Linked DNA regions of Homo sapiens. The protein of the gene in region 3 purifies or fractionates together with the protein of the main gene of each other region. This does not show direct contact. Each region holds a gene or a part of one and is shown on either strand. Other genes may lie near its edges.

Region 1 (7,022 bases), on a different chromosome or scaffold from region 3:
GAGAAAAGCAGAAAACTGTATGGCATTTTGAAAGATCGAAACTCTCTTAATGTATTTCCTCTCTCCCTCATCTTAGTCACGTTTTATCATAGGTCAAATGTTTACCCTTACAAAGGATTCCATCTTCTATTGTTTTTGAATAGTTATCAAATGCCACAAAAATAAATAAAATTAAATTGAACATTAATGCAGATTTCCAGTAAATTTGTTCTGCAAAATCTACAAGTTATTTAGAGTCAGGAAAATGAGTAACCAGTTTCTTTCAAAATAATGCATTAGGCAGGAAAAACTATTAATTACTAGTTTTGTAATTAATTAATTACAAAAACTATTAATGCAGATTTCCGGTAAATTTGTTCTGCAAAATCTACAAGTTATTTAGAGTCAGGAAAATAAGTAACCAGTTTCTTTCAAAATAATGCATTAGCCAGGAAAAACTATTAATTACAAGGTGTTTAAATTCACCCAAAAATCCCTACCACCACTTATATAATCTCATAATTTTTTAACATAGAGTAAAAGTTACATAATGTCTTCTAAGATTACCCTTTGCAGAAAGCTTTTATCCAACAAGCATTTCACTTACTGAACAATGAGAGGCTTGGTGTCAAACAGGAAGGGCTTGTTCAGTTTAGCAGAGATGGCATGATGCTTGGCCCGAGACATCAACACAAGTCCTTTATCACCTGGAAGCTTTGACTCCTTCATTTCCTCTACCTCCCACTTTCCTACAAGACAACACAAAAAAGTTCCACTGCTTAACTCTACCTCTGAAGGTCCTTTAAATGCCAAAAAAAACACCTCCTAGTTGCATAAATATATTATACTGGGGCAGCCGTGGTCGCTCACACCTATAATCCCAGCACTTAGGGAGGCTGAGGGCAGGCGGATCACTCAAGGTCAGGAGTTCGAGACCAGCCTGGCCAACATGGTGAAACCCCATCTCTAATAAAAACACAAAAATTAGCCGGGCGTGGTGATGGGCACCTGTAATCCCAACTACTCGGTAGGCTGAGGCAGGAGAATCGCTTGAACCCAAGAAACAGAGGTTGCGGTGAGCCAAGATCACGCCACTCTATTCCAGAAGCCTGGGTGGCAAGAATGAGACTCCGTCTCAAAAAAGTAAATAAATAATAAATAAACACACTTTATTTGGCAAATATTATTCAGATATGGCTTTTTAAAACTGTAGTGTATTATACTACTGTCTAGAAATTTCCAACATTCAGTAGCACAGGTGATTAAACAGATCTAATCCTATTAAATATAAGGCTACACATGCACCCCTGAACCTTAAATAAAAAAAAAAAAAAAAAAAAAATTAGGCAACACACAAAGGTGGCAAAACTTCCATGGAAAAATCTTTTTTTTTTTTTTTTTTTTGAGACGGAGTCTCGCTCTGTCACCCAGGCTGGAGTGCAGTGGCGCGTTCTCGGCTCACTGCAAGCTTGGCCTCCCGGGTTCACACCATTCTCCTGCCTCAGCCTCCCCAGCAGCTGGGACTACAGATGCACGCTGCCACGCCCAGCTAATTTTTTGTATTTTCAGTAGAGACGGGGTTTCACTGTGTTAGCCAGGATGGTCTCGATCTCCTGACCTCGTGATCTGCCCGCCTTGGCTTCCGAAAGTGCTGGGATTACAGGCGTGAGCCACCGCACCTGGCTGGAAAAATCTTAAAGCCTACTATGTCCTTTTAAACTAGTCTTAGGAAATGCCATGGAGACAACATGTCAAACCTCTATCTGCTATTATATCTAAACCAAATGGGATTCTCACCATCATATTTGGCAATTTCATCATCGGTATCGTCTTTCTTGGCTTTGGATAAAATCCACCTGTAAATAACAAATCCCAAAATCAGTCTTAAAATGACAGTTGACTTGTGAGGGAAAATTATGTAAATACTCATTAAAGTAGGACCTATTCTGCTCTTAGCCTATTTAACCACTCTACTTCCAACCTTTAAATCTGTCACACAACTAATGATAATACATTATCTTCAACTCACAAACCTATATGAAAAAGTACCAAACCTATGAGATAATTCCACTGATGTTTTAACATCAAGAGAAAATTTTTTTCCTCAATCAAAGAACAAAATATAGGGTAGAGTGGGGGAGGGAAAGAAGTGGAAGTAAAAACCACAAATTCCAAAAGACTATTTTCCTGCATGGATGTTAACACTGAAGATATTAAAGCTAGAAATTTCAGGCCAGGTGCGGTGGCTCATGCCTGTAATGCCAACAATTTGGGAGGCTAAGGCAAGTGGACCACCTGAGGTCAGGAGTTCAAGACCAGCCTGGCCAACATGTCAAAACCCCATCTCTACTAAAAAAATAACAACACACACACACAAATTAGCCAGCATGGTGGCGCATGCCTATAATCCCAGCTACTTGGGAAGCTGAGGCAGGAGAATCACTTGAACCCAGGAGACGGAGGTGGCAATGAGCCGGTATCACGCCATTGCACTCCAGCCCAGGCAAAAGAGCGAAATTCTGTCTCAAAAAATAAATAAATAAAATAAAATAAAGTTAGACATTTCACTATAAAAGATGCTATCCAAAAAGGAATCTACTATCCCATCTTATTTACATGTCTGCCTCTAACATATATTTCTCTGGAAAACACTTACCCTGACAGAGTTCCTCTGTCAAAAGAATCAGCAAAATATACTTCCCCTGTTGGAACTGGAGCTTTGTAAGTAACCTGTGTTAAATACATAAATGAATTAAAAATTTAAATTTTCAGCAACATGCCTTTTTATCTAGAATCTATTCTCCTGGTTTGCTTTCAACTGTCACAAAAATTTCATAGCTGGCCTTCAAATTCAACCCATATAATTGGCCTCTAGCAAGACAAAGGCTGCCAGAGAGATCAATAAGTATTTTCACGAATTTTGCTTTCCCTTTGAAAACGTTCCAAATTTATCTTCACCATGTTTTTCTTTTATATTTTATTAGAGATGATATCTCCCTGTGTTGCCAAGGCTGGACTCACACTCCTGTCCTAGGCCTCCTGAGTAGTTGAGACTACATTTCCCTGCACCCGGGTATCTTCATAATTTTATCATCTCAAGACGTAAAAGGAATAGATTCAAAGACCATTTCAAACCTTGGGAGATGAAGGAGGAGCAGTGGTATCTGGTTTTGAGTCTTCTACCTCTTCAATGACATCGTCAAGGTCATCCTCAATATCAATCACATCATCATCATGTCCATCATGAGCCTCAACAATAGCAGTTCCAAGCACCAGTAACATACACAGCAACCACTTCCCTTCCATGATCTACACATAAAGAGCAAAATCAGTTAAATGTATTGCCACCTATCAAACTTCATGAAGATCACTAACCACTCTCTCATTTAAAATTAAAGCTTTTAAATCGCAGAGCTAAAAAGAACTTACTATTTCATTTCATAGATAAAGAAAGGCAGCCTAGAGAGATTAAAGGGTTTCCCTAAAATCAGTTAAAAGATTCCATTTCTGGAAAATTTCAAAATAAAACTGAAACATACACAACATCCTCATATAGAGAGGATTGGTTACACAGATGTGGGGCATTCAAATACAATTTCCAACAAACTTTTGCATTTGTAAAGTGCTTTACAACAGACAAAAGCCCTTTCATACACTAATTTACAGGGGGTACCCGTTAAAACATTACAATGAAATAACAGAGATGGCCGGGCGCCGTGGCTCACGCCTGTAATCCCAGCACTTTGGGAGGCCGAGGCAGGTGGCTCACTAGGTCAGGAGTTCACAACCAGCCTGGCCAACATGGCGAAACTCTTCTCTACTAAAAATACAAAAATTAGCTGGGAGCGATAGCGGGCGCCTGTAGTCTCAGCTACTTGGGAGGCTGAGTCAGGAGAACTGCTTGAACCCAGGAGGTGGAGGTTGCAGTGAGCACGCCACTACACTCTAGCCTGCGTGACAGAGCAAGAGTTCGTCTCAAAAAAAAAAATTAACACAGAAGATAATTCCTCTCATATTAAGGCTTAATATGGATACGGTTGCTCAAATATCATCAATAGACATGTTTTCAAATTAGCGTTTTAGAACTCAAAAAGAATATTAAACTAAGAACAAGCTACTTTTTAAAATTTATATATTTTATTTATTTATTTTGTGATGGATTCTCCCTCTGTCGCCCAGGCTGGAGTGCAGTGGCACCATCTCAGCTCACTGCAACCGCCGCCTCCCAGGTTCAAGTAATTCTCCCACCTCAGCCTCTTGAGTAGCTGTGATTACAGGCACCCACCACCATGCCCGGCTAATTTTTGTACTTTTAGTATAGACAGGGTTTCGCCATGTTGGCCAGGCTGGTCTCGAACTCCTGACCTCAGGTGATCCACCTGCCTCAGCCTCCCAAAGTGCTGGGATTACAGGCGTGAGCCACTGCACCTGGCCAAAACAAGCTCCTTTTTTTTTTTTTTCCTGAGATGAGTCTTGCTCTATCGCCAGGCTGGGATGCATTGGCACTATCTTGGCTCACTGCAACCTCCGCCTCCTGGGTTCAAGTGATTCTCCTACCTCAGCCTCCCAAGTAGGTGGGATGACAGGTGTGCACCACCACATCCAGCTAATTTTTGTTATTTTTAATAGAGACAGGGTTTCACCGTGTTGGCCAGGATAGTCTCAATCTCTTGACGTCGTGATCTGCCCGCCTCGGCCTTCCAAAGTGCTGGGATTACAGGAGTGAGCCACCGCACCCGGCTTATCTCTTCTTTTCTAACCACGTAAGCGCCCTGTGTATTATATTAGATGTGTCTTGGGGTAGTGGCTCTCTTTCCACGGAGGACCACAGATCTAAAGAAATAAAAACTGAGCTACACAGATGCACAAGATGATGTGGTTGGTAGCAGGTAAATTTTCATTTTTGGGCTTGAGAAAGTACAGGTACAAGGTGGGGGAGAAAACAAGTAGAAGATACACAACTAAAAATGTGTGCGCACACACACACAAGATGTCCTTTTCTCCTCACATCCTCTGCCCACACAGTCACCCAATCAATCATAGTCTTTCACTCTTCTCCATTACTGACATCAGGATACTTAATGTTACCTTATATTACCAGGGCCTCTAGTTTCCTCCTCCTCTTTCAAGCTATCCTACAAGAAGACTCATCACCCAAAAACTATCATGAGTCCATGTTTGCAAAAATTTCTAAGTCTTTTAGCTAGTAATCAGCACCCTCTCCCTCTATAGCTGCTCTACATGCTATTCCCCCAGGAATCTTCAACTTCCTCTATTAAGACCTTATTTCCCAGCCTGGCCAACATAAACATAGCCTGACCCTGTCTATACAAAAAAAAAAAAAAATTATCCTGTCTCTACAAAAAATCAAAAAAAGAAAAATTTAGCCAGGTATGGTAGCACACACCTGTTGTCCCAGATACTAAGAAGGCTAAGGTAGGAGAAGCCTGAGTCTGACAGGTTGAAGCTAAGTGAGTCGTTGGGCAGGGTGGGGTGGCTCACGCCTGTAATCCTAGCACGTTGGGAGGCTGGTAGACTGCCTGAGCTCAGGAGACCAGCCAGGGAAACATGATGAAACTCCGTTTCTACTAAAATACAAAAAATTAGCCGAGTGTGGTGGCGCACACCTGTAGCCGCAGCTACTCAGGAGGCTGAGGGAGGAGAATCGCTTGAACCTGGGAGGCGGAGGATGCAGTGACCCGAGATGGCGCCACTGCACTCCAGCCTGGGCCACAGAGACTCCACCTCAAAAAAAAAAAAAAGACTCCACCACTCCACCAGGCGCGGTGGCTCACGCCAATAATCCCAGCACATTGGGAGTCCAAGGCAGGCAGATCATCTGAGGTCAGGAATTCGAGACCAGCCTGGCCAACATGGCAAAACCCTGTCTCTACTAAAAATACAAAAATTAGCTGGGCAGGCTGGGCGTGGTGGCTCACACCTGTAATCACAGCACTTTGGGAGGCCGAGGCAGGTGGATCACCTGAGTTCGGGAGTTCAAGACCAGCCTGACCACCACGGAGAAACCCTGTCTCTACTAAAAACACAAAATTAGCTGGGTGTGGTGGCAGATGCCTGTAATCCCAGTTACTCAGGAGGCTGAGGCAGGAGAATAGCTTGAACCCGGGAAGTGGAGTTTGCAGTGTGAGTTGAAATCACGCCACTGCACTGCAGCCTGGCCAACAAGAGTGAGACTGTCTCAAAAAAATAAAAAATAAAGTGAGCTGTAATGGCACCACTGCATTCAAGCCTGGGCAACAGAGTAAGACTGCCTTAAACAAACAAACAAACAAACAGAAAAAGAAGGCAGAGTTTCAGAGATATTTGCAGACCCGTGTTCATAGCAGTACTACTCACAACAGCCAACAGTCAGAAGCAACCCAAGTGTCCATCAATGGATGAATGATTAAACCATATGTGGCATAGGCATACAATGGAATACTATTCAATCTCAAAAAGGAAGGAAATCCCATCACCGGCTATAACATGGATGAACTTTGAAGACAATATGGTAAGTAAAATAAGCAATTCACAAACAGATACCACAAAGTTTTAAAAAAGAAGGAAGGAAGGAAAGGAGGGAGGGAGGGAGGGAAGAAGGGAGAGAAAGAAAGCTGAGCTTAATTTCTGGTCTCCTGGTTGGCATCGTGGCTCGCGCGTGTAATCCCAGAACTCTGGGAGTTGGAGGAAGCAGGATGATCGCTTGAGCTCAGGAGTTCGAGACCAGCCTGGGCAACAAAGCGAAGTATCTATGAAAAATTAGGAAAAAAAAAAAAATTAGCTGAGTGTAGCGTCATCCGCCTGTGGATCCAGCTACTCAGGAGACTGAGGCAGGAAGATCACTTGAACCAATAACAGCAGGAGTTTGAGACTGCAGTGAGCAATAACCACGCCACTGCACTCCAGCCTGATGAAGAGCAAGACCCTGTCTCTAAAAAAATAAGTAAGGCTGAGCGCGGTGGCTCACACCTGTAATCCCAGCACTTTGGGAGGCCGAGGTGGGCGGACTGCCTGAGCTCAGGAGTTCGCAACCAGCCTGGACA
Region 2 (7,691 bases), on a different chromosome or scaffold from region 3:
GCGCCCACCACCATGCCCGGCTAATTTTCTGTATTTTTAGTAGAGACGGGGTTTCACCGTGTTAGCCAGGATGGTCTGGGCCTCCTGACCTCGTGATCCGCCCACCTCGGCCTCCCAAAGTGCTGGGATTACAGGCGTGAGCCACCGCGCCCGGCCTTTTTTTTTTTTTTTTTTTTTTTCAGACAGAGTCGCACTCTGTTACCCAGGCTGGGTGGCAATGGCGTGATCTTGGCTCACTGCAACCTCCGCCTCCCGGGTTCAAGCAATTCTCCTGTCTCAGCCTCCTGAGTAGCTCGGATTACAGGCACGTGTTACCATGCCTGGCTAATTTTTCTGTTTTTAGTAGAGATGGGGTTTCACCATGTTAGCCGTGCCGGTTTCGGACTCCCGGCCTCAGATGATCCATCCACCTCGGCCTCCTAGAGTGCTGGGATTACAGGCGTGAGCCACCGCGCCCGGCCTCCACCTGGATGTTTCATAGACACCTCCAATACAAAAGAGCCATTGTTAAACTTATTACCCACTCCTTCTTGAAATACTTCTTAGGTTTTCTTTTCTTTGTAAAGGAGACTCCCATTACTCTCTGTTTCTCTCTCAATTCACAACTAAAAGTCCTGTTTTAATCTCGTATTCTTTAAATCCATGATGTCTTTTCAGTCCTCAGCGCTGCTGTCCTGATTGCCCCTTTCATAGACTTCTGTACAATGTGCAAAATTCTTCAATGTCCGCATTGTTAATATGCTAAAATCTAAACTTCTTAGCATGGCTTGAAAAGGTTTTTATTAATCAATAGCTATTTAATGGTCCTGCCTCAATTCCTGACATTCTCTAAAAGCATTCCATGCATCAGCTATATGAATCTACTTTCAAATCCCCAACATACTAAGTTCTCTAATGATTCAGTGTCTTTAAACCTACTATTGTGATTGAAATTTTTTTTCAGTCTTGTTGGCCTGGCAAAGTCTGATTTGTATTTCCAACCTCAGCGCTAGGGTTATTTTCCCTTCTTTTGTTTTGTTTTGTTTTGTTTTTTTGAGACAGAGTTTCACTCTGTTGCCCAGTCTGGAGTTCAGGGGCGCAATCTCGGCTCACTGCAACCTTCGCCTCCTGGGTTCAAGTGATTCCTGTGCCTCAGCCTCGTGAGTAGCTGGGATTAAAGTTGTGAGCCACTGCGCCTGGCCCTTTTTTCCCTTCTTTGAATTGTCTAGGCAGAAAAGCATCTCTACACTTAGCAATTTTGTCTTTTTTTTTTTTTTAGTTGGAGACAGGGTCTCACTGTATTGCCCAGGCTGGAGTGCAGTGGCAAGATCACAGCTCACTGCAGCATTGGCCTCCTAGGCTCAAGTGATCCTCCAACCTTAGCCTCCCGAATAGCTAGGACTCCAGGTACACGCCACCATGTCTAGCTAATTTTTGTATTTTTTGTAGAGATGGGGTTTCGCCATGTTGCCCAGGCTGGTCTCGAGCTCCTGGGCTCAAGTGATCTGCCCACTTTGACTTCCCAAAGTGCTGGGATTACAGTTGTATGCCACTGTGCCCTGCAGATTTTAATATTTTAATTACTCACTTTATTAATCAGTGTTTCCAAACTAGGCTGTAAGCTTCTTGAGGGTAGGGACTATGATTACTCTCATCTTTATATCCCCAACACTTAACAGAGTGATTGGTATCTGATTGGCACTTAAAAGAATGAGAAACAAAATTAGTTATGCAGTAATAATGGCATTCTCTCTAGGGCTTAAGCTTAACCTATAGATTTTCACTTAAGCATCTTTTAAAAATTTGTAGTAAATATATAGTACATTAAACAAAATTGAAGAACAGAAAAGCAAACTACATCTCATATTATTTCACCATCCTAATGCCTATTTTAGTGCACTTACTTTTGGTCTTTGCTCAAATATGTGCTATATATATGTGTGTGCATTTATGTTTGTATATTATATATATTTTTATTTTACATAGCTATAATCAAATGTACATGCACTTTCACTTTTTAAAAGCTTAACTCGGCCGGGCGCGGTGGCTTACGCCTGTAATCCCAGCCCTTTGGGAGGCCAAGGAGAGCGGATCACTTGAGGTCGGTAGTTCGAGACCAGCCTGACCAACATGGAGAAAGCCCGTCTCTACTAAAGATACAAAATTAGCTGGGTGTGGTGGCGCATGCCTGTAATCCCAGCTACTCAGGAGGATGAGGCAGGACAATCACTTGAACCTGGGAGGAGGAAGTTGTGGTGAGCCGGGATTGTGCCATTTTACTCCAGTCCAGGCAGCAAGAGCACAACTCCGTCTCAAAAAAAAAAAAAAAAAAAAAAAAAGCTTAACTCACTATAAACATTCAACACTGTTGCATAATCCTCTAAATTATTATTTTTCAGCAGTGTGTAATATCTCATTCCCCTACTTAGGTTGATAGTCTGAGGAGATTTAGGTTGTACCGCATTTTCTTTTTTATTTTATTTTATTTTTTTCGAGACGGAGTCTCGCTCTTTCGCCCAGGCTGGACTGCAGTGGCGCTATCTAGGCTCACTGCAAGCTCCGCCTCCCGGGTTCACGCCATTCTCCTGCTTCAGCCTCCTGAGTAGCTGGGATTACAGGCGCCCGCCACCGCGCCCGGCTAATTTTTTGTATTTTTAGTAGAGACGGGGTTTCACCGTGTTAGCCAAGATGGTCTCGATCTCCTGACCTCGTGATCCGCCTGCCTCGGCCTCCCAAAGTGCTGGGATTACAGCCGTGAGCCACCGTGCCCGGCCAGTTGTACCGCATTTTCTATTATAAATAGGGACAGATCCAGGCTTTGTGGGACTTGAAGCTTATACAATTTTGTATAATACAATTATACAGAAGAGGAATTCAAAATTATCTTTGTTTTGCAAATAGGACCATGTGAACATACCATAAAGGCCCCTCCCCAGACATTGGAAGGGGCCTGTGAAAGTGAAGGTTAACTTTCTTTTCTTTTTTTTTTTTTTTCTGAGACGCAATCTTGCTCTGTTGCCCAGGCTGGAGTGTAATGACGCGATATCGGCTCACTGCAACCTGCGCCTCCTGGATTCAAGCCATTCTCCTGCCTCTGCCTCCTGAGCAGCTGGGATGACAGGCGTGTGCCACCATGCCCGGCTAATTTTTTTTGTATTTTTAGTAGAGACGGGGGTTTCACCATGTTGGACCAGGCTGGTCTCGAACTCCTGACCTCGTGATCTGTCCGCCTCGGCCTCCCAAAGTGCTGGGATTACAGGCCTGAGCCACCCGCCCCCGGCCCAGTTTCCTGCTTTGAGGAAGCCAGAATACAAAACTCACTTGGTTCTTAGAAGCAGGTCATTTAAATAAACGGTGACTAGACCTCAGGTGAATTTGGGAGAAAGTGATTTGGCTGTTTCTGCTGTCCATCTACTTACAAACCTGCAGCACCTTTGGTTCAGCGCGCATTTCTTGGAAGGAGCGGAGTGGCTTAAGTCAGAGACCTGGATTGGGCTGAGGTACTGCTATTCATTACTTGAGTGGCCCTGGGTAAGTCATTAACCTCTCAGGTTCTCATTTTGCTCCTCTGTGCAATAAAGAATAAGTAACAAAACCTGCCTTTCCCCAGGGTAGTTTTGAGTGTCAAATATGATAACTTGTGTTCAAGCACTAGTGAACTCCAATGTCACTGAGGTACTTGTTAACATTGTGGTAGCAGCTCCACTTTCTTGCCCATCTGCCTCCAGGTAAGGGCGTGTGACAGCTGGGCAGGATGCATCTGATGGCTCCATTAGGGTTAACTGTTGGAGCGCCTCTGCCCAGACGAAAGCCTGGCAGGTGATTTCAGGGGGCGTCTGGGCCATTACTCCTGAATGCCCAATGCACTGGGAGTAGCAGAGGCTGTGCACAGTCTGAGATTCTAGGGAATCTTTTCCTTCTCAAGCTGAGAATTGATAATCGAAGCATGCCAAACATTCGTTATTATATGCAACTTGTAAAATCCTAAATAGTCTTGTCCAATTGTCCCTTTGCTCTTAGGTTTTGAGGCATTTATCTTGGAATTTTATCTGCCAGTTTAGAAATCTTTAGCTGGTCGGGCTTAATTCTGGGGGCAGTTTGTATTTCTGGGAAGGCGGGAGAAAAATGACAATCTCAGTTTTGAATTGGCGTTTTAATATCGTTCACCAGATCCACGCTGAAAGCCGGTGTAAACAGCGTTCAAAAATTCCGCCCTCCCAAAAAAAGGATGCTGAAACCGATTTCCAACCCCGAAGACGGAGCTCATCACCCCGCAACGGGATCCGCCGTGGCTCCCCGCGCGTGCACCGCGGCTGGGCAGTCTCAGGTGGCTGGGGGCGCGAGACCGGAGCCCCACCTGGCCCTGCCGGCGGCGGCCGCACAAAGAGCGGGGCAGACGGCTGCCCGGCCGAGCCGCAGAAAGTAGTCCCGACCACGCCGGCTCCAATGTTGTTCAACGCCGCCTCACGCCCTCCGCGGGGAGGGCCGAAGCGGCCGGTCCGGGAAAGAATCCCGCTGGAATGCGCCACCGGGAGGAGGCTTTCCCTCCCAGTTCGCCTCTGCTAGCCCAGAACCTCTCCCAGGGTCTCAGGCAGAGGCTGTGCGTGCGGTTGCCGACTCCCTTCCCTGGCCGTACAGGAGGCAGTACCGGGAGAAGGGGCTCGTTGCGCGCAGGGACACGGTCGCGGCGACCCTAGGAGGCGGTGCCGACCGTATCCCTGCGCCGCTGCGCGAGGCAGAGGCTGAATGAGGAGCTGCGCGGGGGAAGCGGGGCGCCGGGGGAGGAGGCGGCGGGATGGAAGCAGACGCTGGCGTCGCGCGAGCCCGGGGCCGAGCGGCGCGGTAGAGAGGGCGGCGGCGGCGCGCGCGGAACCTTGACGTGCCCCTTTCTTTCTTCTCTCGCTGGGAAGCTGGGAAGTATGAGCGTGCAGCCCTGCCGCTGCGGCGGCCGCCCCGGCTCCTCGCCTCCCCCACTTCTGGCCACCCCTCGCCGGTGAGAGAAGAGAACGCGAGAAGGGAAGATGGGGGCCGTCCTGAGGAGCCTCCTGGCCTGCAGCTTCTGTGTGCTCCTGAGAGGTGGGAAGAGTGGGGGCACTGGAAAGTTGGTGGGGTTCGGGGGGAGGTGGCCTTGTTGTATGTGTCTAGGGGGAGGGGAGGGACGGAGGAAGGGAGAAGGGGAGAGGAGCGGGGAGAGGCCTGGTCGTGGGGAGGGGGAGAGAAAGGGGCCCGGGAGCAGGGGCTGCGTGCACCGCCCGGCCACAATGCGGACCTGGCCTGGCTTCCCAGACCTTCCCCGGACACATCGGAGCTTCGATCCCGGCTGCTGGTCTTAGGGAACCCTTGGCACCCCATGCTGTCGGGATGACTGAGTGTCTGTGTGCCTCTCTCTGCCTGGGGTCTTCCAGGGAAAAGGGTCTTTGTACGTATTTTGGCTTTTAAAATGTTTGAGTCCGAGATGCTTTAAGGTTGGCCTTATCCATCGAAGCCCCGCCACCCACTCCCCACCCCGTTTCGGTGTTTCTTAGGTGAACTTTTAAAGCCCTCTTGCTATTTTTTCCAGGCCTTGTTACAGGTAATGATTGGCTTCCGTTTGGGATATAATGACCCTGGGTGAGAGCGCAGTTGGAAAGTGACTCCGGGGTTATAGGTCGAGCGTTTCAGCATTGGGAGCCTTCTGAGCTTCAGCCCATAATAAAATAAAACATTGCCCTTGTAACCTCTGGTATTCACGGCTTGCCCCTATTTTCGGAGTATGCAAGTGTACAGTTGGCACTAAGTAGGGAAATTCATCCTCGTGTGAAGAGGAGCCGGTCCTGGGACCAAAATGATAATTTGCTCTGCACCCCTGGGGACTGCTTGGCACTTTGGTAAATTGCATAGGCTGTTCGAGATAATTTGCTCTGGGAATCGCTTGAATTCGATGGCACTATGATGTTTTGAATTGGACTGCAAAGCTGACACATGCTCTGTGACTTTTGTGACAGTTCACAAAGATTTTTGACTGGCCCGTCGGCAGCTCTTCTCAAACTATTTAGTGTTGAACTTGAGATGGCTGTGATGGCTGTGGAGCATTTACCAGCAGAGGAATTTAAGTACTGCTCGATACGGTGGCTTGTAGTTTTGGTTTGGTAAAGTTCTTACTGGCGTTCATAGTAAGTTCTTTTCAGGCATGTGACCGCTGGTCGCTGGAGATTTTTAGGTGTTAACAAGCTAAACTTTTGTTAAGTTCTCCAAACTAATTTAAGTTTACAGAACACTAATAGTAACTAATAGTCTGTGACAGGTGTATATTTTTGCGTGTACTGTGTATATGTATTTCGGATGAGAATGATTGAGTTTTTTTTTGGAGGAGGAGAAATACTTTCTTCAGTTACTCTGTAGTAATGCAGCATTGTGTTTGCATGTTATATTACTTGATACTCTAAGCATATTACAAAGTTTTCCCACATGTAAACCCCGGAAAGGTAGTGTTCATTAGATTTTTGTGGCAGAAATTTTAATGAAGTGTTACGTACTGGAGAGGTTTCATAAGTATATACTTATTTTATTATTGGCATACTCTATTGAAAGGGGTTTTGCTGTAGCTGTTAGAAACAACTATATTTGACATAAGAATATGTATGTATTTTAAGACATAAGGTTAATAGGGCTGACAAATATGAGAACCAGCTGATTGGTTAGAGTCGTGGGAAAACTTATAACTTGGGATGTTTCTGGTTGTCTAGTTGTATTTCTTGGAGGAGAAGCGTGTGATGTAAATGCCGTTTGTTTAACACCAGCTTTGAGACCAGAGCTGGGTTTGTTCATTATTGGAATTTAGATAGGTTGCACTTATTTATGTAACAAGACCTGGAAGAGGTAATAGTTTAAATTGTCTCGTTTCCACTAGCAAAGTTTTCAGAAGTGGAGCTCTCGTTTTAAATGTGGCGAAATATGGTGTAAGGTGGTCTTCTAATATGTAACAGTACTGTACTTAGCTGTGAGTACATATTATTTGAAGTAAAACTGTCTTTTGATGTAAAATATTTTTGTTCATAATTTAGAATTAATTCATTCTTTGAGAATGTCATCCTCTGTTATAGTAAAGATATTTAGTCAACCTTGGACTCCAAGGAGAAAAATCTGATTGATTTGTTGCATTTAGGTCATTTTTTTCCCCCACAAAGAATTGGGGCTTTAACATTGGCTGGGTGTGATGGGGTATGTGAGAGTCTGGGAGACCTTCTGTCCTGTAGCCCTGTTGAATTAGTAGCAGAAAGCCAGGGAATACTGTTAGTGCTGTGTCCCTATCTCTATCATCACATGACAAGGTATAAAGGAAAGATTTGGGAATTTCAATACTAAAATCTTGGATTTAAAGCCCAAGTGTCACAACTTCATAACTTTGTGGTTCTGGTCTAGTCCGCTTCTCTAGGTCTCAGTTTCTTTACTGGTAGTGTGGATAATGATACCTGACTAGTTTGCAGGGTTATTGGGTGTTTTAAATGAAATAATATGGAGTACCTTGTTAATGTTACTTTTTGCTATAATTTTTGCTTGTTCAGGGACATATCCTCAAATGCTTTCATGATTTGAGATTTAATTTGTATAACGTTCACAATTTTTTTTTTTTTAAAGAGACAAAGTCTTGCTTCATCACTCAGTCTGGGGTGCAGTGGTGTAATCACAGCTCATTGCAGTCTCAAAGTCTTGGGCTTAAGTGATCCTCCTGC
Region 3 (7,022 bases):
AAAATACACAATGAAACAAGAAGTCATGACAGTCAGCTTTCACTTCCTTTCATTTCCAAAAATGTGTTCTGATGCCTCTTCTACTCAAGGGTCCTGTAAGCTGCAGCGTTACCGTGGGGATTAAAGCAGGTATCGAACACCAGGCTTATCCCAAATGCCCAATGTTAGCTGTTTCCATAATCATTACTTTTTATTACAAACTAAAATGCGGGTTCCTCTAGATTAGGTTAGGTGGGAGGTGTTTGTGTCTGACTCTGTCCGACTCACAGTAGCATGCATTAAATAGATGCTCATGAATATTCAGTAAAATGAAAGCAAAATGTATTAGTCAACTGGTGGGACAGGGACAGAGGGTGGACAAAGGACAGCAGAAGGAGGCTGCTTAGGGTAGCAGGTGGAGGCTGGGAAGCTGAGGGCCTCTGTCGAACTCAGCTAAGCAGCTGTCCTGTTCCCTGGGAGGTACTCAGAATCCCCTCAACAGTTTTAAGAAATAAAAGCTACTCTTCAGCAGTTATGAAAGGTAGATTTGGGGTGAAAGAGACTGAGGCTGGGAGACCAGTTATTAAGAAGCCCTGGTTATGACCACGGACAGGAGCTGACAAGTACATGAGCTAGAATAACAGCGATGAGATTGGAGAGATGACCACTCAGATGTCACACCAGCGATAAGTAACCACTGATAATGTGTGGGCTCTACCGCTGGAGCCGTGCAAGGCCATGGTGGAGGGGCCTGGCTGCGGAGAAGCCTGAAGTAGGACCGTGGATGGCAGAGGTGATTTACAGAAGCAGAATGGAGCAGAATGGAAGTATATGGAGACTTTAACAGTGGATGTGGCCATGCCAGTGGGAGCCAGCTAAACAGCACTGGAATGCTGGGGCACTGGGACAGAACTGGGTCAGAGACAGCTGTGACATGCAGGGTTACCTCCCAAGCGCATCTCCTTCTCCAGCTCAGGTCTCCATCCAGGTACCTGGTCAGTCCATACTCTAGTTGGCGCCCAGGGACTGGTCGGGAAACACCCTGCCACAAAGTACCAAACAGGAAGTGTGTAAACAGAAACTGCAGCTATGTACCCAGACAAATCGCCATAGTCCAAACGGTCCAACTTTCCCAGGGCCCTCCTCCTGCCTCAAGTCCAGGTTTCCTCAGGTTCTCAAGCCCCAGGACAGAGCAGGGCCGTGGGGAAGCCCATCAGAGTCTCTCTGTCCCAGTCTGCTCTCTTCTTCTCCATCACTGACTTCCAGCTGCTCATTCCCGCAACATGTCCTGAGCAGCTTCTATGTGCCCAGCCCTGCAGTGGGTGCTGGAGACATTCACACACAGTGAATTACACCAGCATGGTTCCTATCCTGCTGGAGCTTAGGGGAAAAGTCTAGTGGGGAAGACAGACAATAAACAAGTAAACAAATAGGTCTATCATCATCCTGTGATGGGGGTTCAAAGATAGAGAGTAACTGTGTAGGAACTCCCTGGAGGAAGCATCCCAGGAGACCTCTCTAAGGAGGTGACCTTCACACTGTGACTAGAGGCCTGAGAGGAGCCAGCCATGAAAAATCCAGGACAGGAAGCTTGTTCCTACCTCCTCCTTGAGAAAACAAAATCCACTCCCATATACAGAGCTGGGACAAGACGTCAATGAAACCACAAAGTTAACAGGAAACGGCATTTCTCCTTAGAACACACTGCAGCCATAAAGTGTCAAAAACCCCCTTTGGATGAAGACTCCTTTTTTACTACCTAGAAATTCTGTTCTCTACAATCACAGACTACCAGAAATTTTGCAGTTTGAAGTCTTATCAGTTGGGATAAAACATCCCATGCTTTCCTGGAGGATCAAAGTCACTCTGACACACAGAAGCAACCTCAGTTCCCAAACAGGGCAGACCTTCAGATAAGGAGTTTCTGGAGATAATCCTGCACATCTATGTTAACCTGGTAGTCTCCAAGGAAAGAGGACCACTTTGCAGTCCAGACTAGATCTTGGCCCCTTTACACTCAGTTCTACATGGCTTTGAGCCCATCAAAACACTACTTCATTTAAATTTGCCTAAACTTTACTCATCTCCAAAATTCTATGATTTTCTTCCTTTTTTTTTTTTTTTTTTTTGACATAGGGTCTGACTCTGTCACTCGGGCTGGAGTGCAGTGGTGCAATCATAGCTCAATGCAGCCTCAAACTCAAGCAATCCTGTCACCTCTGCCTCCTTAGTAGCTGGGACTACAGGTGCGCATCACCACATCCAGCTAATTTTTGTATTTTTTTTTGTAGAGACTGGGTCTCACGATGTTGCTCAGGCTGGCCTTGAACTCCTGGCCTCAAGCAATCCTCCTGCGTCAGCCTCCCAAATTGCTGGGATTACAGGCATGAGCCACTGCACCTGGCCTTTTAAATTTATTTTTATCCCCTCCACGGCTCTACTCATCCCCTGCATCAGTATTCCCTGGAACCTCAACACATTCCAGTACCCCACAGATGCAAGCACACAAGCTCATACTGTTCTGGCGCTCTTGAGCGTACTCCAGACCTCACACTGCTGACTCTCCCAGCAATGGCACACACTTCAGTGCCTCTATGGCTCTAAACCCACAGTAGCAGCCTCTAGAACGCCTTAAACCATCCGGCTGCCCCTTCCTAGAGTGTCCTCGTGCTCAGGGACACACGTGCACCTCACACCAACTTGACCCTTAGCGCACCGGGCCTCTGACGGTACCAAGACCCTTCCCGCACCACCACCACCCCCTACCTCACAGAGATCCACAATCCTCATCCCCGCTAGCACAGGCTCAGGTCTCCCACCGTCCTCCCTCCATCAGATCCCTCCATGAGGTCCCTCCAGCTCTGTTCCATTAGCATGCACTGGGCTCCAACTACCCAGACCTTTATTAGCGCATGCACACACCCACCACGGCACAACCCCCACAAGCGCACACCCAGCACTTGAGTCCTTCAACCACCTCCCCTCCATAAGCACCCCATTCTCTCCTACCCTGCAGGCCCCCACAGACACACACACAGCACTAACACCATACACACCCCCATCACCACACACGAGGCCTCAGAGGCCTATTAGCACACACCCTGGTGCCTCTACCACACTATCCCCCATTAGCACACACACTGGGCCTCTCTCCAGCCATAACCCCTATTAGCTTGCTTTGGAACTTCCTCAACACCCTACCCCTGTGATACACCCACGGGTCCCTCACCCGCTCTGCTGCCCACTTCCCTAAGCACACACTGGGCCTTGAGCCTCACCTGCCATAAGGCTCATCACCACATGCTCTGAGCCCTGCTCAGCCCAGGCCCCCATTGGCAAAGCTCCAGTCTCTCCCGGCTCCACCACCCATTCCCATATCCTCTGTTCCTCTGACCCCCTGCTCCCTATTTGCACTCATGGCACTTCCATCCCCAGCTCCCTGCCCCGGGCCAGGTCAGAGAGGCCCCGAAGGACTCCTGCCCTGTGCCCTCTCAGATGACTCTCTGTCCCTCTGATGAAGATATGCAAGTCCCGCCAGTATGCAGCCTCGCTTATTGCAGTGAGTCAATAAAAGTGATAGGTGTGTCCCGAGTGGCCTTAGGCTAGCTGGAAGCTCACACTCTCCTTCTCCAAACATGTACCACCTGTTCCCCCACCTTCACTCTCAGCTGATCATCTAACGAGATCATCCTATTTTACTAGAAAAACAGAAGCAATCAGAGAGCATTTCCACCAGTTCCCAAGCCCCACCCCAGGTTCCTGCACTCTCCTATTACTACAAACAGTGTGTTACCATGAAACTGGCCCCGAGCCCAGCTCAGGCAAACCCCACGCCCAGCTCTGTCCTCTCATTCTCTCCAACTCACTGCCACTGCACCCAAACTGACCTTATCACAGTCAGCACAGGTGGCCTCCACATCACTAAACACAACAGTCAAAGCACAGCCCCAGTCTTCCTTGATCTATCAATAGCATCTACCGTGATTGATAACTCCCTCCTTAAACGCCTTATATAATTGGTTTCCAGGAAACTACATTCTGGCAGCTCCTCATCTCTGAGTCCACGTAGTGGGGTCCCCCAGAGTTCAGAGCTCAGGCCTCTGCCACACTCCCTGGGAGAGCTCACCCAGACTCAGGACTTTTCATCGCTGCCTGCTGACAACTTCCAAAGGTAAAACTCCATTCCCAGCCTCTCCTCAGAACCCAAGGCTTGCTTCCTTGACATCTCCATGTGGATGTCTGGTGAACAACTCAAAAGATTCAAAAAAAACAACTCAATTTAAAAATGTGCAAAGGGTCAGGCATTGGTGGCTCACACTTGTAATCCCGGCACTTTGGGAGGCCAAGGTGGGAGGATCGCTTGAGCCTAGGAGTTCCAGACCAGCCAGGGTAACATAGTAAGACCTCCTGTCTACAAAAACTAAATTTAAAAATTAGCCAGGCATGTTGGCCTGTGCCTATAGGCCCAGCTACTCAGGAGGCTGAGGTGGGAGGATCATTTGAGTCCAGGAGACCAAGGCTGCAGTGAGCTGTGATCGTGCCACAACACTCCAGCCTGAGTGACAGTGAGACCCTGTCTCAAAAAAATAAACAAATAAAATTTTTAAAATGGGCAAAGGACTTGAACAGACATTTCTCCAAAGTAGATACACAGATGGCCAACAGGCACATACATGAAAGATGCTCAGCTTCACCAGTCATCAAGGCAAACGCAGATCAGAAGTGTGACAAGATGGCATTTTACACCCATGAGGATGGCTATAATACAAAAATCAGTAACAACATAGGGGAATGTGGAAAAACTGAAATCCTCAAACATCACTGGTGAGAAAGTAAAATGCAGCCACTGTGGAAAGCAGTCTGGCCGCTCCTCAAAAGGTTAAGCACAGTCACCACACGACCCAGCAACTCCACTGCCCAGTATGTACCTATGAAAACACACACACTCACACACACACTCATACATGAATGTTCACGGAAGCATTATCCACAACTGCCAAACAGTGGAAACAAGCCAAGTGTCCATTGGCAGATGAATGGATAGACAAAATGTGGTACATCCATAAATGGAATATTATTCAGCCATAAAAAATAAAGCACTAATTCATGCTGCAACATGGGTGAACCCTGGAAACATCATGCTCAGTGAAATAAGCCTGACAAAAAGGCCACATGCTGTAAGATTCCATTTACATGAAATGTCCAGAAACAGCAAATTCAGACACAGAACATAGATTTGTGGCTCCCAGAGGCTGGGGAGGCAGGGGGTGGAATAGCTGCTGACAGGGATGGGGTCTCTTTTTGGCTAAAATGTTCCTGAATTAGACAGTGATGATGATTGTACAACCTTGTAAATATGCTAAATATCACTGAATTGTACACTTTAAAATGTCAAATGTTATGGTTTGTGAATTATATCTTCCTTGAAGTCTCCCCCTAACATTTAAAAAGATAAAAGCATTCCCAGCTCTCAGGCTACGCAAAAACAAGCAGAAGCTGTGGTTGGCCAAGCCCTGCCTTAGGTGATGGCATTCCTCCAGGTCTGCCAAAGACCCAGGTAACCTCACCCACACCTGGGACACTAGCAGCCATCTGAACTCTGCTGCTTTCTAAGTCTGCACTGCAGCCCAGGTCTCTCCTATGCTTTGCTCACTGGCCTATCAAGGTATGGGATGTCCACTGCAGAACTCCCCAGTCCCCACAGGCCCCTCCTCCAGGGTTCCCTCTGTCATGGGCTCATGACCCAACCACCCACTCAAGTTACAGACCAGGTGTGTGTGACTTGATTCCTCCCTCCCCTAAACTCTAAACCAACCGATTACCACATGCAGTCAATGCTCCCACCAAAACCTCCCTCACAACTGCTTGCATATCTCCTTCCTTGCTGCCCTTCCCCTCCACCCCGCTGCGTGAGCCAGCAGCACCTCTCACCTGGGTTTCCACAATAGATTCCCAAGCAGACGCCCAGTTTTTCCTCTCTTGCAGTCCATTCTCAGGATTACACAGCAAACAGGATCCTTTTTCTTTAAGTGTTTCACACACAGAGAAAAAAAAAATCATAAGCATTCATCCAGCTTTGTCAAGTCACACTGCATCATTTTTTCAGATCTTTTTTTAAAGAAATTAAATATTACAAATAGAGTTGAAGACCCTCTGGACTCCTCCCCATCCAATTCTACTCCCCCTCAAGAAGTGATCACTATCTTCAAGTTGGTGGACATCAGAGATTCTCAAACTGTGCTCCCCAGACCTGTGGCGTCATAGCCCAGGAACCTGGGAGAAATGCAAATTCTTGGGTCCACACTCCAAACCTACTGAATCAGAAATGAACATCTGTGTTTTAATAAATCCTCTAGGTGATTTGGATGCATGCTAAAGTCTGAAAACCACTGGTGTATATAATTCCTATACATGCTGTCTATCTATCTAATCGATCTTATCTATTTACCTACCTACTTATCTATCTACTTAAGACATGGAGTCTCACTATGTTGCCCAGGCTAGACTCAAGTGATCCTCCTGCCTCCACCTCCCAAGCAGCTGGGACTGACTACAGGGATGGGTTACCAAACTCCGCTTCTCATACATGCTTATTTTCACAAGTATGTGCCCATAAATCATACATATGTTTTCAAGCTTTATACAAACAGTGATGGGCTGGTATTATCCTCCTGCAACCAGTTTTTTTTAAAAGCTCAACATTACATTTCTGAGATTTATCCATGCAGATGCACAAAACTCAGTTCACTATTTTCAACTGGTTTGACTTTTCCACAATTAGTGAGACAAGCTGTGTATACATCTCCCCAGGCATACATGGAAGTTTCTCTGATACATGCAGGGAGAGCTTTCTTTTTTTTCTTTTTTCTTTTTTTGAGAAGGAGTCTCACTCTGTCACCAGGCTGGAGTGCTATAGCACAATCTCAGCTCACTGCAACCTCTGACTCCCTTGTTAAAGGGATTCTCCTGCCTCAGCCTCCTGAGTAGCTGGGATTACAGAGCTGGGATTACAGGCACGTGCCACCATGCCCAGCTAATTTTAG

What was found.
Region 1: the proteins of POMK (region 3) and CANX purify together in Homo sapiens (affinity purification with mass spectrometry; 5 studies listed by BioGRID and IntAct, with this or other methods). This does not show direct contact.
Region 2: the proteins of POMK (region 3) and LRP6 purify together in Homo sapiens (affinity purification with mass spectrometry; 5 studies listed by BioGRID and IntAct, with this or other methods). This does not show direct contact.

The regions. Positions count from the first base shown.
Region 1 is NC_000005.10:179,701,945-179,708,966, reverse strand, and holds part of CANX (calnexin isoform d precursor), read right to left. Parts: intron 3,289-7,022; coding exon of another isoform or gene 3,286-3,288; coding exon 3,115-3,285; intron 2,710-3,114; coding exon 2,636-2,709; intron 1,836-2,635; coding exon 1,777-1,835; intron 729-1,776; coding exon 587-728; intron 1-586. UniProt on the Homo sapiens protein: Calcium-binding protein that interacts with newly synthesized monoglucosylated glycoproteins in the endoplasmic reticulum. It may act in assisting protein assembly and/or in the retention within the ER of unassembled protein subunits.
Region 2 is NC_000012.12:12,264,045-12,271,735, reverse strand, and holds the start of LRP6 (low-density lipoprotein receptor-related protein 6 isoform b precursor), read left to right. Parts: upstream 1-4,691; 5' UTR 4,692-5,000; coding exon 5,001-5,055; intron 5,056-7,691. UniProt on the Homo sapiens protein: Component of the Wnt-Fzd-LRP5-LRP6 complex that triggers beta-catenin signaling through inducing aggregation of receptor-ligand complexes into ribosome-sized signalosomes.
Region 3 is NC_000008.11:43,096,504-43,103,525, reverse strand, and holds part of POMK (protein O-mannose kinase), read right to left. Parts: intron 6,003-7,022; 5' UTR 5,911-6,002; intron 1,022-5,910; 5' UTR 926-1,021; intron 1-925. UniProt on the Homo sapiens protein: Protein O-mannose kinase that specifically mediates phosphorylation at the 6-position of an O-mannose of the trisaccharide (N-acetylgalactosamine (GalNAc)-beta-1,3-N-acetylglucosamine (GlcNAc)-beta-1,4-mannose) to generate phosphorylated O-mannosyl trisaccharide (N-acetylgalactosamine-beta-1,3-N-acetylglucosamine-beta-1,4-(phosphate-6-)mannose).